2 separate regions of the Homo sapiens genome follow, and region 1 is linked to region 2. Evidence: fine-mapped expression QTL. Tissue or cell type: whole blood. Region 2 holds a variant in brackets; the other region holds the start of a gene. All regions are shown on one strand. Distances are from middle to middle.

What was found. PIP is the estimated chance that this variant, and not a neighbour inherited with it, causes the effect.
Region 1: BOLA1 starts here. The variant in region 2 is fine-mapped to the expression of BOLA1 in whole blood (INTERVAL, PIP above 0.99).

The regions. Positions count from the first base shown.
Region 1 is chr1:149,894,722-149,902,820 of GRCh38, reverse strand. It overlaps BOLA1 (bolA family member 1), which reads right to left and starts at 3,253. Exons shown (of 2, transcript NM_016074.5): 1 at 3,149-3,253; 2 at 2,026-2,811. The coding sequence starts at 2,761. The coding sequence ends at 2,348. LOC124904412 (a long non-coding RNA gene) reads left to right here and starts at 3,273. Exons shown (of 2, transcript XR_007066597.1): 1 at 3,273-3,343; 2 at 7,100-7,445. RefSeq lists an enhancer at 3,160-3,219.
Region 2 is chr1:150,019,770-150,027,872 of GRCh38, reverse strand. The region is part of intron 1 of LOC124904413 (a long non-coding RNA gene); the gene reads right to left. It also overlaps a transcript of OTUD7B not described here. Among named protein-coding and RNA genes, the nearest start is that of OTUD7B, 13 kb to the right of the region's middle. The variant C/T (reference allele first, on the strand shown) is at 3,538.

The sequences.
Region 1 (8,099 bases), 130 kb after region 2:
CACCCAACTAATTTTTGTATTTTTAGTAGAGATGGGGTTTCACCATGCTGCCCAAGCTGGTCTCGAACTCCTGACCTCAGGCGATCCGCCCGCCACGGCCTCCCAAACTGCTGGGATTACAGGTGTGAGCCACCACACCCAGCCAGAAGCTTCATTTTAAACAATCTCATGGGAGTTCTTACCTGAGAAAATCTGAAAACCACTGCCTTGGGGTTACCATTGACTCCCCTCTCACTCTAGTCCATTTCTGTTCCAATCAAACCATTTTCTGATTTTATGGTAGCTCTCAAATAAACTCCTTCCTTTCCATTCCCACAGATGACTTGTAAGTCAGGGTTCTACCCTCACTCTGGATTGATCTCTGTTCCTCCAGTCTCCCATGCCAACTCACTTACACATCACTGCCAGATCCATCTGCCCCCAGATGCTCTCTGGCATGTCTGTACTCAAAATTTGTCAATGACTCCCTACTGCCCAACCACATGCACCTTAAATTCTTTAGCTAGAAATGGTCAAGATATATGTTAACCGGGCCGGGCGTGGTGGCTCACGCATGTAATCCCAGCAATTTGGGAGGTCGATGCAGGCAGATTGCTTGAGGTCAGGAGTTTGAGACCAGCCTGACCAATATGATGAAACCTCGTCTCCACTAAAAATACAAAAATTAGCCGGGCATGGTGGCAGGCACCTGTAATCCCAGCTACTCGGGAGGCTGAGACAGGAGAATCGCTTGAACCTGGGAGGCGAAGGTTGTAGTGAGCTGAGATTGGGCCATTGCACTCCAGTCTGGTCAACAAGAGCAAAACTCCGTCTCACAAAAAAAAAAAAAAAAAAAAAAAAAAAGATATATGTTAACCAAGTTTTTTTCTCTAATAATTTCCACATTGAGATTATTGGAAAGTTGCTTCTATAGACATTACTCGAGCTCCCCTCAGAAATATGACAATATCTGTAATGCTCAAAAAGGGCTACATTGCGGGGCATGGTGGCTTACGCCTATAATCCTAGCACCTTGGGAGGCTGAGGTGGGCGGAGTGCCTGAGCTCAGGAGTCTAAGACCAGCCTGGGCAACATGGTGAAACCCTGTCTCTATAAAATACAAAAAATTAGCTGGGTGTGGTGGCACAAGCCTCTAGTCCCAGCTACTTGGGAGGCTGAGGCAGGAGAATTGCTTGAACCTGGGAGGCGGAGGGAGGCTGCAGTGAGCTGAGATCGCGACACTGCACTCCAGCTTGGGCAACAAAGTGAGACTCCATCTCAAAAACAAAAACAAAAACAAAAACGCTACGGGTAGTGGCTCACGCCTGTAATCCCAGCATTTTGGGAGGCTGAGGCAGGAGGATCACCTGAGGTCAGGAGTTTGAGACCATCCTGGTCAACATGGTGAAACCCCATCTCTACTAAAAATACAAAAAAATAGCTGGGTGTGGTGGTGCATGCCTGTAATCCCAGCTACTGGGGAGGCTGAGGCAGAAGAATCGCTTGAACCCAGGAGGCGGAGATGGCAGTGAGCCGAGATCGTGCCATTGCACTGCAGCCTGGGCAACAAGAGCGAAACTCCATCTCAAAAAAAAAAAAGAAAAGAAAAGAAAAGAAAAAAAAGGCTATATAAAGGTTTCTTCATCATCTGTAATCATTTTCTTAGTTCTTATCCTCTTTTCACTGCTTTAGTGGTTTTTAAAAACATTTTTCTTTTAAACAAATACAAATACTACTTTTTGGAAATGAACAGGCTGTAAAAAAGCCAAACATTCCCCCCCTCAAGATGAAATTCAAATGTGTCCCTGCCTATATCCCCTGTCTTGTCCATTAACTCACTTCTCAGTCCAGCGTCTATGTCTTTGCTCAGGTTCTTCTCCCTGCCTGCAGCACCTATCCTCTCCTTTCTGGTTAATTTTGTGCTTTCCTTTAAAGATCCAACTAGATCACTTCCCTCATAAAGCCCTTCCCGACTAGTCTACAAGTATCTTTCTTCTCCCAAGAACACCTGTGGCACTGATTCAGCAGTCCATTAAGAACACAGCCTCATAGTGTAATTTCTTTTAATGTATAGGATTGTTTCCAACTCATCAGGTCTGGTGCAATTCTGTCACGATTTAACATGGAACATCCGGGCTGCCCTTCCTGAATAGTCCAGGGCAAGAGCAGTAGTGAGTGATTCTTCTCTTTTCTCGGGTTCACTTTGACCTGAAGCAAGTTGCTATCTTCGGAGAGTATGTATGGACCCCAACAGAATGGGGCCCAGGGGTCTTCATCCCTTACAAATCCTGGACTGTATCAAAGGGAAGGCCTCGGTAATTCGTGCTCACCCAGCCCATTCGGATCCTGGTCCTCCCTCTCTTGGGGTTCAGGGGGTTCCTAGAGTTTTCTTGTTCCCACCCAGGCATGGGGGGCTAGTGTCCAGCTGAGAGTTCTCTCTCCACTGGGCGGGGGTCCGTGCCTGGATGGCCAGCGCATGGACCGGACCTCCCAGCTCCTCGGCCAGCGCTGCGTGGACCAGCCGGTGTCGTTGTAGGGGGCTCAGTCCCTCGAAACGAGAGCTCACCACAGCCACGCGGAAGTGAGTCTCACTGCCAGGCGGGACCGCGTGGCCACCGCTCTCGTTGCGAAGCTCTAGCACCTCGGGGCTCAGGGCCTCCTCCAACTTCGTGCGAATGGCGGCCTCCACCGGACCGATGGCCCCGGATCCCGCGCTGCCCTGGCACAAACAAACGCGGCCAGCCATGGAGACCAGACCCAGGACCAGCCGCCCACTCAGCATGGGCTACGCCAGAGACTCAGACGCCAGGAGTGAGGGTCGGGGCGATCCGCCTGGTGAGAGCACAATGTCAACACCCGCCCCGCGATCCCCGCATCCGCCCTAACCCCACGCCCGGACGTCCACACCAGCTCCTATAGGGAGCCCGCCTTGATGCCACACGGGGAGACCCGAGACACCGCCCCTTTTCTCTACGTGACGTGGTGAATTCGACCTCCAGCTGTGGAAGTGAAGGGACAAGCGAAGATTAGAAAGGCCCGCACGCGAGGCGCGTTCGTTCCTTAGGGGATTTGCAAAGAATGGGCAAAAGTAGGGCATGTGCAACTGCGTACTTGTGGTTGGGCCGAAGCCCCTGTGTTCCCTGTGAAGCCCCGGAGACGCCCCTTCTACCTGCCGCTCAGCCTCGGCCACTGCGATTCCCGCTCAGGGCCAGGACTCTGGACGCTCCGGAGCAAAATGCAGTCCTGGCGCCCTTCCTGAGGCACGCTGGGAAATGGAGTCCTCGCTGCGCGTTGGTAGCACGGGCAGGCACCACGTGGTGCCCTGAGGGCTCATGGGAACTGTAGTCTCGGATTCTCCCCACTGGTAAGGTGGTCAGAAAGTCTGAACCCAGCAATGCAAAGAAAAAGGGAATTCACGCGCAGTTGGGATTGGGATTATTAGATCTATTTTACTGCCAATAGATCTTGTAGATCATCCAGCCCAACTCCTTTATTTTATATGCAAGAAAATGGAAGTCTGATTGAATACATAATTACTGTGCCCCAGACTAGTGCTGGGGACTGGGGAGTCAAGTCAGGCCCTGTTTTCAAGGAGACAACAGAGCACTGAAGACTAACAAGTGAGCGGACAATTGCAATACTGGGTACTAGGTGCTACGATGAGATAAACACAGGATGCTAAGGAGGCAAGTTACCCAGACTTGGCCGGGGTTGGAGAGGTGGAATGGGAGGCGGGCAGAGAATATTTCCGAGATTTAGGGAAACAGTTCAGCAGAAACAACATGAGAATCCATTTCTCAGTCCCTCATAGTGAGGTTTTGGCTTTGGTAGCTGCATGTGTAAAGGACAGGAGGAGAGAGAATTTTGAGGGAGTCTTTCCTTCTGGTGTAGTTAGGGTGTGGTTATGTGTGGTTGGAGCCTAGGGGGCAGCTGATGGTGATGAGTAGGGTACCAGGAGGAGAGGAACGGGCCAGACCACCCCAGGCCTTGTAGCCCTTGTTAGGCAATTTTGTCTTTATCCTAGAAGTAGTGGGAAGCTACTGAGGTTTTAAGCAGGGATGTAACAGGATGTAATTTTTCCAGGATGATTCTTAACTTGTAAAATTATTTAAATTTTATTTTGTATCCTTAATATATTTACATATTTCTAAATGTTTTTCCCCAACTTCTCATTTTGAAAAATGTCAAAGCCACAGAAAAGTTGAATAGTTCAAAGCAACACCCTCTACCTTTCACTTGACCCACCATTTTTTGCATTTATATTTATTTTATACTTGTACATATATACTCATATATTTAAGTACTTTACATATACTTTAAAATATATTTATATGCTTTTTTGGATGAACCATTTGAAAGTAAGTTGCAGATAGCATGACATTTCACCCCTAACTACTCCAATATGTATCTCCTAAGAACAAAGATATTCTCATACATAACCACAATAACCTTATCACACTCAAGAAATTTAAACTATGACATACACTGTTTTCCCTAGCCTTTAAAAAAAATTAAAACTTCCAGAAAATTTGCAAGATTAATACAATGAGCAACCCATTTATCCACTCTTCACCTAGGTTCACTGATAAGATTTTGCCAGACTTGGCTTTGTATCTCTTTTAATGTATGTGTGTATAATAATAATGAAATAATAATAATTATTTCTGCTGAATCACTTGAGTTAGGTGCAGAAATCTTATTTATTTATTTTTTTTTGAGATGGAGTTTTGCTCTTCTTGCCCAGGCTGGAGTGCAATGGCGTGATCTTGGCTCACTGCAACCTCTGCCTCCTGGGTTCAAGCAAGTCTCCTGCCTCAGCCTCCTGATTAGCTGGGATTACAGGCATGTGCCAACATGCCCGGCTAATTTTGTATTTTTAGTAGAGACGGGGTTTCTCCATGTTGATCAGGCTGGTCTGGAACTCCCAACCTCAGGTGATCCACCCTCCTCGGCCACCCAGGATTACAGGGATTACAGGCGTGAGCCACTGCGCCTGGCCCAAAATTCTTTTTTTTTTTTTTTTTAAACAGAGTCTCACTCTGTTGCCCAGACTGGAGTGCAGTGGCGCCATCTTGGCCCACTGCAACCTCCACCTTCTGGGTTCAAGTGATTCTCCTGCCTCAGCCTCCTGAGTAGCTGGGACTACAGGCTGGTGCCACCATACCTGGCTAAATTTTTTTGCATTTCTAGTAGAGATGGGGTTTCACCATGTTGGCCAGGCTGGTCTGGAACTCCTGACCTCAAGTGATCCTCCTGCTCTGGAACTCCTGACCTCAAGTGATCTGCCTGCCTCAGCCTCCCAAAGTGATGGGATTACAGGCGTGAGCCACTGCACCCAGCCACAAAATTCTTTTTTTTTTTTTTGAGATGGAGTTTCGCTCTTGTTGCCTAGGCTGGAGTGCAATGGTGCGATCTTGGCTCACAGCAACCTCCGCCTCCTGGGTTCAAGCGATTTGCTTGCCTCAGCCTCCCATGTAGCTGGGATTACAGGCGTGCGCCACCACTCTGGCTAATTTTGTGTTTTTAGTGGAGACGGGGTTTCTCCATGTTGGTCAGGCTGGTCTTGACTCAGGTCATCAGTCCGCCTCGGCCTCCCAAAATGCTGGGATTATAGGCGTGAGCCACTGCGCCTGGCCCCACAAAATTCTTTACACTTAATTGCTATGTACTTTCAATGTGTATCTCCTAAGAACAAGGACATTTTCATACATATCCACAATACCATTACCACATCCAAGACATTTAACATTCATACAATACTATAATCACATACAGTTGATATTCAGATTTCCCCAACTGTCTCATTGGTGTCTACTATAGTTTGAATATGTCTCCTCCAGAATTCATGTTGAAAATTAATCCATGGTGTTGGTATTAAGTGGTGGGGCCTTTAGGAGGTAATAAGGCTATGAGGGCTCCACCCTCAAGAATGGACTAACGCCTTTTGAAAGAGCTTGAGGGGGTAAGTTGGCCCCTTCTGTCCCTTCTGCCATGTAAGGTCACCTCGATGGCGTATCTATGAGGAACTGGCCTTCACTAGATACCAAACCTGCCAGTGCCGTAATCTTGGACTTCCCAGCCTCCAGAACTGTGAGAAAATACATTTCTGTTTATAAATTACCCAGTCAGTGGTATTTTGTAATAGCAGCACAGTCTAAGTAAACATTATAAATGTTTAATTTTCAGAAACCAATCAAGGATCATGCATTGCATTTAGCTGACTTTAAGTTTGTATTCTGCAAAGATCACTGGCTTCAGGGTGGAGAATGGATTGTAGAGGAGGCAAGAGTGGAAACAGGGAGACAAGTTGGGAGGTTACTGTAGCAGTCTAGGTGAGAGATGATGATGATTTGGACCAAGGTGGTGGTGGTGGTGGTGGAAATGGAGAGAAATTGTGGCTACAGGATGTATATTAGGAAAGTAAAACCTACAGGGTGTGGTAATGGCTTGGTTGTGGGAGGGAAAGTGTCAAGGATAATTACAAGGTTTGTGCATCTAAAGTTAAAAAAAACAGTTCAAATAATTCCTGTATATCCTTTATCCTGATACCTAGATTACCCAAATATTAACAATTCACTGTTTGTTTTATTTGTATGTACCTATCTACAAATATATAATTATTTTCTGGACTGTTTGAGACTAAGTTTCAGAGATAAAGCCTATTAAACTCTACCTGTGATGGTTAACTTTTTTTTTTTTTTTGAGATGGAGTCTCACTCTGTCGCCCAGGCTGGAGTGCAGTGATGCAATCTTGGCTTACTGCAACCTCTGTCTCCTGGGTTCAAGTGATTCTTGTGCCTCCGCCTCCTGAGTAGCTGGGATTACAGGCGTGGACAATGGCGCCTGGCTAATTTTTGTATTTTTAGTGGAGAGGGGGGTTTCACCATGTTGGCCAGGCTGGTCTCAAACTCCTGACCTCAGGTGATCCACCCACCTCAGCCTCCCAAAGTGCTGGGATTAGAGGCGTGAGCCACCACGCACGGCCTGTGATGGTTAATGTCCCAACTTCTAGAGGATTGGTGCTCAGATATTTGGCCAAATATGGGTGCTTCTGTGAGAGTATTTTGAATGAGATTAACATTTGAATTGGAGACTGAGTAAATTGCCCTCCCTAATATAGGTGGGTCCCATCCAACCAGTTGAAAGCTTGACTAGAACAAAAGACTGACCCACTCCGGAGTAAGAGAGACTTCCTTCTGCCTGACTGCTTTGAGACCCGGACATTGGCTTTTCTCAGCCTTCAGACTCAGAAGTAAACACTGGCTCCATCTGGGTCTTAGACTCGGCCTTTGGACTGGAACTACACCATTGGTTCTCAGGCCTTTGAACTTGGACTGGAACTATATCATCAGTTCTCCTGGGTCTCCAGCTTGCCAACTTACCCTGAAGATCTTGGGGATCTTGGGATTTATTAGCTTCCATAATCAAAAAGCCAATTTTTTATAATAAAACTATCTATCAAAATATCTACCATTCGTTCTGTTTCCCTGGAGAATCCTGACTGATGTATATTTACTTAAAAAAAAAAATTTTCTCACATAGCCGGAATATAACTGTCAGACTCTAGAAATGAACACAGATACGGTACTATTATCTAATCTACAGACCTTATTCAAAATTTGCCAATTGTTCCACTACTATCATATATATAAAATGAAAAGAAATATCTTCTGGTCCAGGATCCAATCTAGGATGACGTGTTGCATTCAGTTGTTATATTTCTTTGTTCTCCATTAACTTGAAATAGTTTCCTAGATTTTCTTTGTCTTTCATGACTTTGGTAATTTTGAAGTTACAGACATTTATTTTGTAGAATGTCCCTCAATCTGGGTTTGTCTGATGTTTCTTTATGATTAAAATTTAGCACATGCATTTTTGGCTGGAATACTGCAGAAGTAATGTTGAATTCTTCTCTGTGAACCTTACCAGGGCACGTGATCTTTTTGTTATTACTAGTGATAGTTCTGATCACTTGATTAAGATGGTATCTGTCAGGCTTTTCCACTATAAAATTCCTTTTCTGTCTGTAATTGTGGAAGATACTCTAAGTGTATCTACTTTCCTAATTCTCATTAAGTTTTTTCCCACTAATTTTAGCATGTGAGAAGTATATTTGAGAC
Region 2 (8,103 bases):
CTCACCAAATTAGTCAGTTTTTTAATTATTCTACTTAAAATCTCTCAGGATAAAATAGAATAGAATATAATTATTTCATAGGGAAATAATAAAGAAAAGAAATATTTCCAATTTGGAATTTTAAGAAAATACACTTTTTTTTTTTAGCAGTTATCCTTTTAGCACTAAAGGACACTAGCAGATTATTATAAGAAATCTTCTTTGGCAGATGAAGTTAGAAATGTCAAGTTGATCACTTCTGCTTTTGTGCCATTGATTATCTTATTTACTTATTTATTTATTTTTTGAGATGGAGTCTCACTCTGTTGCCTAGGTTGGAGTGCAGCGGCCTGATCTCAGCTCAGTGTAGCCTCTGCCTTCTAGGTTCAACCGATTCTCCTGCCTCAGCCTCTCAAGTAGCTGGGACTACAGGTGTGCACTACCATGCCCAGCTAATTTTTTGTAGTTTTAGTAGAGACGGGATGTCACCACGTTGGCCAGGCTGGTCTCAAACTCCTAACGTCAGGTGATCCACCCACCTCAGCCTCCCAAAGTGCTGGGATTACAGGTGTGAGCCACTGTGCCCGGCTTTACCTTTTATATTTCTGCATGGTATTATAATTATTTATTACCTCTCTGTATTCCCTATAGAAGATGAGGACCTTGAAGTTAGAGATAGTGCTATAATCTTATATCCCTAGAGCCTAGTTAACAGGTGCTAGGTTCGGTAGGTGATTGTTCAGAATCACCTGATATAATACAGCCCAATACAACACAACAGAACACAACACAGTACAATACAATGTAATACCTTTGATTTACGTTATCTGAAGGCTGAAAGTTGGAGACTATTTAGCAGGAACACATCACATGATTAATGGCTTCCACTGATTATGAATATAGTATAGCTTTAACTGTTTAGAAATTTCATTTCTAAGTATTTCTACAATTTATATAAATTCTAAATATAAATATACTTTTGATTGCAAATTACAGAATCCTAGATGGAATGAGCTTAAGCAGTAATCGGAGACATATTGGTTTATATGGCCAATCTGCAGAAAGGGTAAGGGTGGATTTATTTTTATGGATGACTGGCACCAAGAGCTTGGATATTATTCAGAAATTTCTCATTTCTCTCTCTTCACTTTTCACTTTTCTCTTTCCGTACTGGCTTTATTCTTTTAAGTTGCTGTCACCGTATCTCAACTATAGCCTTAAGTAGCCCTGGGCTTATATATTTATGACCTTGTAACCCGAGAAAAATTCAGTTAGAAAATCCCAGGAAAGGGCTCTCATAGGTCACATTTGGACTATGTGTTACCTTTGCACAAATCACTGAGGATAAGGCAGACGGAGGTATTATGCTTGAAACAAGCTGGGTTAGGAACTTATCTCTACCATCAGGGAAGTGGGATACTGTTATAGGCAAGTCCCTTCAAAATCACATGGTTGCAGAAGGAGAGAACCATTCTCTCCAAAGAATAAAAGTACTGTTATGATGAGACAAAATAATAAATAAATATTCATTGCATGGTCTATGATATATGTTGCTAGTTTTCTTCTAATTTCCATCTGGCCTTCTTTCTTAGTAAAAGAATTTTTAATTTTAACCTGGCAAATGGCCACCCAGAATAAATAATGCTCATATCAGCCTCCTTTGCAGCTGAGTGTGATCATGTTCTGATCCAAGTTCTGGCCAATGGATGTAAGCAAAATATTGTATGCACCTTCCAGGAAGTGTTCTTAAACTGAAGGGTCATGCACTTTCTCAGTCCTTCCTGCTCCCTTTGGAAAACACTGGAAGGCCTATTTCTCCATAAAATTCTAGGAATCTCCAAGGAATGCTTGTATTTTCTAAAATTCATATTGGTAGTCACTTGTCCTGTTCGCCAAGTGCCCTCACTCAAGGCCATTCAAGCTCCAGAGCTCTGCAGATCCTTCTTGCAACCTGACAAACAGACTATCAGAGCTCTGTGTCTCCTCTGCTCTTTTGTCTCAAGTATGAACAGAGCACCTGACCACATCTCTTTTTTCAGTTGTGTAATTCATGTGGGGGCTTATTTCCCTGCCACAATAATTGCTCTAGGGCTAGAAAACTGACCCAAACAAAATATTTCACTATCCCCTATATTAGACATAATGTATTTGTCTGAGGATGGTCACCTGACCCAATATGGTCTGATCAGAGCCTTTCCATCAGATTTTTGAATTCACACAGAGAAAGGTAGTCTTAGGTCCTTTCTGGTGGTGAGCACTGTAAGATGTGAGGCTCTGAAGTTGATATTCCCCTCTGGTGTGGAAGAAGTCAGTCTGTAGTGGGAGAGAATAATGCTCACATGCAGAAAGAAGTTGTAATAGAGGCTACAGAGAATTCTGGAAACATTTTAGCCCTGGGTTTCAGTCTTTCCTGAGGTCTATTTGTGTGTGTGTGTGTGTGTGTGTGTGTGTGTGTGTGTGTTTTGTTTGCTTGTTTTTGAAACAGAGTTTCGCTCTTGTTGCCCAGGCTGGAGTGCAATGGCACGATCTCGGCTCACTGCAACCTCCGCCTCCTGGGTTCAAGCGATTCTCCTGCTTCAGCCTCCCAAGTAGCTGGGATTACAGGCATGTGCCACCATGCCCAGTTGTATTTTTAGTAGAGACAGGGTTTCTCCATGTTGGTTAGGCTGGTCTCGAACGCGTGACCTCAGGTGATCCACCTGTCTCAGTCTCCCAAAGTGCTGGGATTACAGGCATGAGGCACCGCGCCCAGCCCCTGAGACCTATCTTATATTTTATCTTCTCTAACTCAGTTCAGATAAGGTTGTGGTGGGTTTTTTTGTTTGTTTTGTTTTGTTTTTGTTTTTGAGACAGAGTCTCACTCTGTCACCCAGGCTGGAGTGCAGTGGTGTGATCTCAGCTCACTGCAACCTCTGCCTCCTGGGTTCAAGTGATTTTCCTCTCTCAGCCTCCCGAGTAGCTGGGACTACAGATGTGTGCCACCACACCTGGCTAATTTTTGTATTTTTAGTAGAGATGGGGTTTCACCATGTTGGCCAGGCTGGTCTTGAACTCCTGACCTCAAGAGATCCGCCCGCCTTGGCCTCCCAAAGTGCTGGGATTACAGGCGTGAGCCACCACGCCCGGCTAATTGTGGTGTTTTCTAAAACTTCACTGAAGACTTTTAAAGAAAGCGTTGTTGAGAGGATTGAGTGAGAAACCATCAATTCTTTAGCTTTCCATGTGCTACACATATACCACATTCTAAAATGGCAGCTGCTATTAGTTCTATTTATTGAGGCATTTGTTCTCCAATATCTGTATTTATATATTTATAATTCTTGTTGTATATCTTAGGCTAAACTCCTAAAATATTAATTTCTCCAGTTTTTGAGAAGGACACTAAAAATAGCATGCAGATCAGTATCTTTAACCCTATTTAACATTCTTCATCAAGCCATCTGTTTCTAGGCTTTATCACCTTGTACTCAAATCCCTGATCCTCTTTATTGTTCTCTTCCTATTTAAGCTAATGTCCCCTCATAAGTCTGTGAGATCCTTCATTCCGGAGTGCAGAGG[C/T]GATAATCAGGAACAAGCTCCTGCCAGAAAAACTGTTACCTTGACATTATTATATGCCCTGGTCTCATTCTTAACAAAAAATGAAAATGGCTTTATTTGAAAGGACTTAAGAGTTGGTGATCTAAAACAAATCACAGGCTCTTAGAAAAGCTAAGGAGGAACTAGATTTAACTTGTGGAATGGAATATTTATTCCACCTTGTGCAGATAAGTGCTCAGAAATTGTTTTTGTTGATAAACTAAATAGTGGCACTCTATTGAGAAATAATTGTCTCTCATGTCCTTAGCACTGGCCACTATCTGATGTGTCAAAATTAGGAAGGTAATAGTACTGCTGCCAATTAAAGTGCTTGTTCAATTATGTCATTACTCATTAACATATGCAGGAGGAAGCTGGAATACCTTTAAAACTTTTTAAATTGACAAATAATGATTATATATTTATAAGGGTAAAATGTGATGTTTTTATATATGTATACATGTAGAAAGATTAAAATCAAGCTAACTAACATATCCATCACCTAGCCTACCTTTTTTGTGTGGCAAGAACATTTGAAATCTACTCTTTTAGCGATTTTGAAATATATAAAACCTTATTATTAACCAAGGTCGTCATGCTGCACAACAGATCTCTAAAACTTACTCTTTTTGTGTAACTGAAACTTTGTATCCTTTGACCAACATCTCTGCTTTCTCTATCCCTGCACCACAGCCTCTGGTAACCACCATTCTACTCTCTGTGTCTATGAATTCAACTTTTTTAGATTCCACATATAAGTGAGATTATACGGTATCTGTCTTTCTGTACCTGACTCACTTCACTTAGCCTATGTCCTTCAGGTTCATCCATGTTGTAAATAAGATTTCCTTCTTCTTCAAGGCTCTCTGGTATTCCACTGTGTATATATACCACATTTTCTGTGTCTGTTTATATGCTGATGGACATTTAGGTTGCTTCTATGTCTTGGCTATTGTGAATAATGCTGCAACAAACATGGGAGTGCGTATATCTCTTTGATGCACTGATTTCGATTTCTTTGGATATGTACTCAGAAGTTGAATTGCTGGATTTTATGGTAATTCTATATTTATTTTTTGAGGAACCTCCACACTGTTTTTCAAAATGGTTGTACAAATTTACATTCCCACAAACAGTGGGCTGGGTCCCCTTTTCTCCATATTCTTGGAAACACTTACCTTTCATGTTTTTGATAAAAGCTATTCTGGGTCGTCTAGTGACTAAGATTCACCTTTGTGCATCTGAAGTCAATACTTCTTAATTCTGCTTTCAGAACATATACCAGGTGAGAGGGATTTCTGTTTTTTCTAGTACCCAGTTCTACACTGCCAGTGATCATTTAATTGTGATAAATCTCTTGCCACAATGGTGGCAAACACTATGACCTTACTGGATGCTAATGCTGTTTGTTGCTGTGGTTGCTGTGGCTGCTGCTGGGTAAAGAGACTCCTTGGGCTCTTTAGTAAATAGGGCACTTTGAGATATTTCTTTTTTCTCTTGGGTTCTTAAAAATACATACCATTGGATATAAGATAAATCTGGTGGGATACTAAAGAGTTAAATAAAAGTAAATGGAGAGTGACTCTTAACTGATCGGCCCAGGTAAACTTCCACTTGTTGTAGTGGCTTGCAGAAGCCTGTTTTAGAGACATAGTGATGTCATTAGATGGCCTGTGGTGTCTCTTGATGCCCACAAGTCTCCTGTCTGCATTTCCAATGAGCTCCCAGGTGAGGCACTACCGCTAGGCTGGGAAACACACCCTGAAGCCGTGAAGTGTGTGCTCTGCACATGTGATCACATGTGGTTACGGCTCTTTTCAACAATCCCAGTTACCAACGGCTGGAGTTGCTCTCTCAGCCAGATCAGCTGCCTCAGACCTTCAGCATGTAGTTATTTTTTTTTTTTTTTTTTTTTTTTTTTGTAGAGAGTTTCGCTCTGTCACCCAGGCTGGAGTGCAATGGCACGATCTTGGCTCACCACAACCTCTGCCTCCCGGTTTCAAGCGATTCTCCTGCCTCAGCCTCCTGAGTAACTGGGATTACAGGCATGCGCCAACACGCCTGGCTAATCTTTGTATTTTTAGTAGAGACGGGGTTTCACCATGTTGGCCAGGCTGGTCTCGAACTCCCGACCTCAGGTGATCCACCTGCCTCAGCCTTCCAAAGTGCTGGGATTACTGGTGTGGGCCACCATGCCCAGCCCAGCATGAGATTTTACAGTATTTGACACAGCTAAAGACTGTGGAACTAGTCTTGACTTGACCCATTACTTCCATTAAAAGTTCCAGGCTCAGGCTGGGAAGCAGGAAGAATGATTAAGGAGAGAGAGAAAGGGAGAGTTTAGATTATTCTTCATGTTGGAATAAGAAGCTGTATTCTAAATGACTGGATTAGATGTTGTTTCAGTGGCAAGAGAAAGTCTGGAGTAACCACTGCATCTGTAATGTTAATGAATTTTAAATGTTAACATTCACACCTTTTTTCTCCCTTCTGCCTCTCTTTAGGAAAGCTGCTAAATTTGCTGGTGATATGCACATTTTAATGAATCTTATATATGCTTCATAAATCTTGTTGACTAATTAGTAAACCCATTTTATCATGCAAGAAGTATTCACTGAGCACTAGAACTTGGATTCCACTGGGCTGGTGCTGTCGTGTCTTCTCTCATTAAATCCAATGCGGACTTAGTTCAGGTTCACTCATCCCATACAGGGAGCTCTGGGGCTCCACCTGTTTCACTCTGTAGCACTGGTTCCTTTCACCTCATATCTGCTTTAACTACTGGACTTGGGTTTACTGAGTTCCTGATCTCTGACTTCATCTCCTATTTTTGGCTCTGAATTTGACCCTTGAACTTGGTAAGATGACAAGATCTCGTTTTTCCAGATTAATATTAACCTTTGCCACACCTCCCCAAATATAGTTTTACATTCACCCTCTGGCTTTGTTCCCTCCCAGCTGCTGTGTGTGAAAACCTGACTCCAGTCCTCCCAGCCTCTAGGACCCTGCCCAGACCTGGCCTACCTTCTTCCTCACCGCCACTGGAAAAAAACAGACGTCAAAAGCCTTAACAAAATACTGTCTGATATAGCAAAATGGAACATGTTTCCTACTAGAAGTATATGACCCGAAGGGGGAAAAATCTGACTCATTTTAAAAACAATTGTTAGGGGTGTGTGTGTTTTGAGAGAAAGAAATAGAAAAGGGCCAATGTATTTGCTATTAAAAAAATCTTCAAAATAACAGAAAAAATTTAAAACTATGTACTCAAAAAATGAATTGCTTTTGTCGTATTAGAAGTCTAGCCAACAGAAGTAAGGGGATGGAGACTGAACCAACCAGAGGAGAAAAGGTGGAAGGCGCTGCCCCAGCAGAGACCAGAACAGGGCCAGATAAAGTTAGGGTCAAAGATCCACACCCTGTTTGGAAACTAAGCAATCAACAAGTGTCAGTTGTTATTTAGGTGCACCAAACATTTTGGGGGGAAATGTGATTTCAGACACAGATAATTATATGATAGGGGCCTATTTGGCTTTCAGAGAAAATTTTCAAGATAAATCAGTAGCTTTAAATAAAAATCTAAGTTTGTAATCAAAGTTTTTCAGAAATAGCAGAGAAACATATTTTCCTTTAAGTAGTTCTCTGTTAATAGTCTCTAGTCTCAAGCAGTTTTAATTTTAAATAGGACTACCTCTAACTTTGTGGGGTCTGGGGCAAGGGTACAAATAGAGGCCCATACAGCATATACCTAGATATTTAATTTTTTGTTTGTTTGTTTTTTGAGATGGAGTCTTGCTCTGTCACCCAGGCTGGAGTGCAGTGGCATGATCTTGGCTCACTGCAACCTCCACCTCCCTAGTTCAAGCGATTCTCCTGCTTCAGTCTCCTGAATAGCTGGGACTACAGGTGCGCGCCACCATGCCTGGCTAATTCTTTGTATTTTTAATAGAGACAGGGTTTCACCATGTTATTCAGGCTGGTCTCGAACTCCTGACCTCAAATGATCCACCCACCTCAGCCTCCCAAAGTGCTGGGATTACAGGCGTGAGCCACTGCGCCTGGCCTGCCATTCCCTTCTTCCAATTCTATTAGGAGGCAGTGTGAAGAATTCTTTCCCTGCTATATGAATTACATCACCTACCTTAAAAGTAGGCAGCTACAGTTGGGGTTGATTGTGTTGTTTTGTTTTTGAGACAGGGTTTCACTCCGTCACCCAGGTTGGAATGTAGTGATGCGATCTCAGTTCACTGCAGCCTCAAACTCCCTGGCTCAAGTGATCCTCTCTCCTCAGCCTCCTGAGTAGCCAGGACTGCAGGCACATACCTGGCTAATTTTAAAAATTTTGTAGAGACAGTGTCTCACTACATTGCCCAGGTTGGTCTTGAACTCCTAGGCTCAAGTGATCTTCCCGCTTCAGCTTCCCAAAGTATTGGGATTACAGGCGTGAGCCACTGCACCTGGCCTGGTTGGGTTCTAAATAACAAGTTTTTCTTTCTCAGTTACACAATGATCCCAGAGCAATCTATGAGCTCTCTGAAATCATTTAGT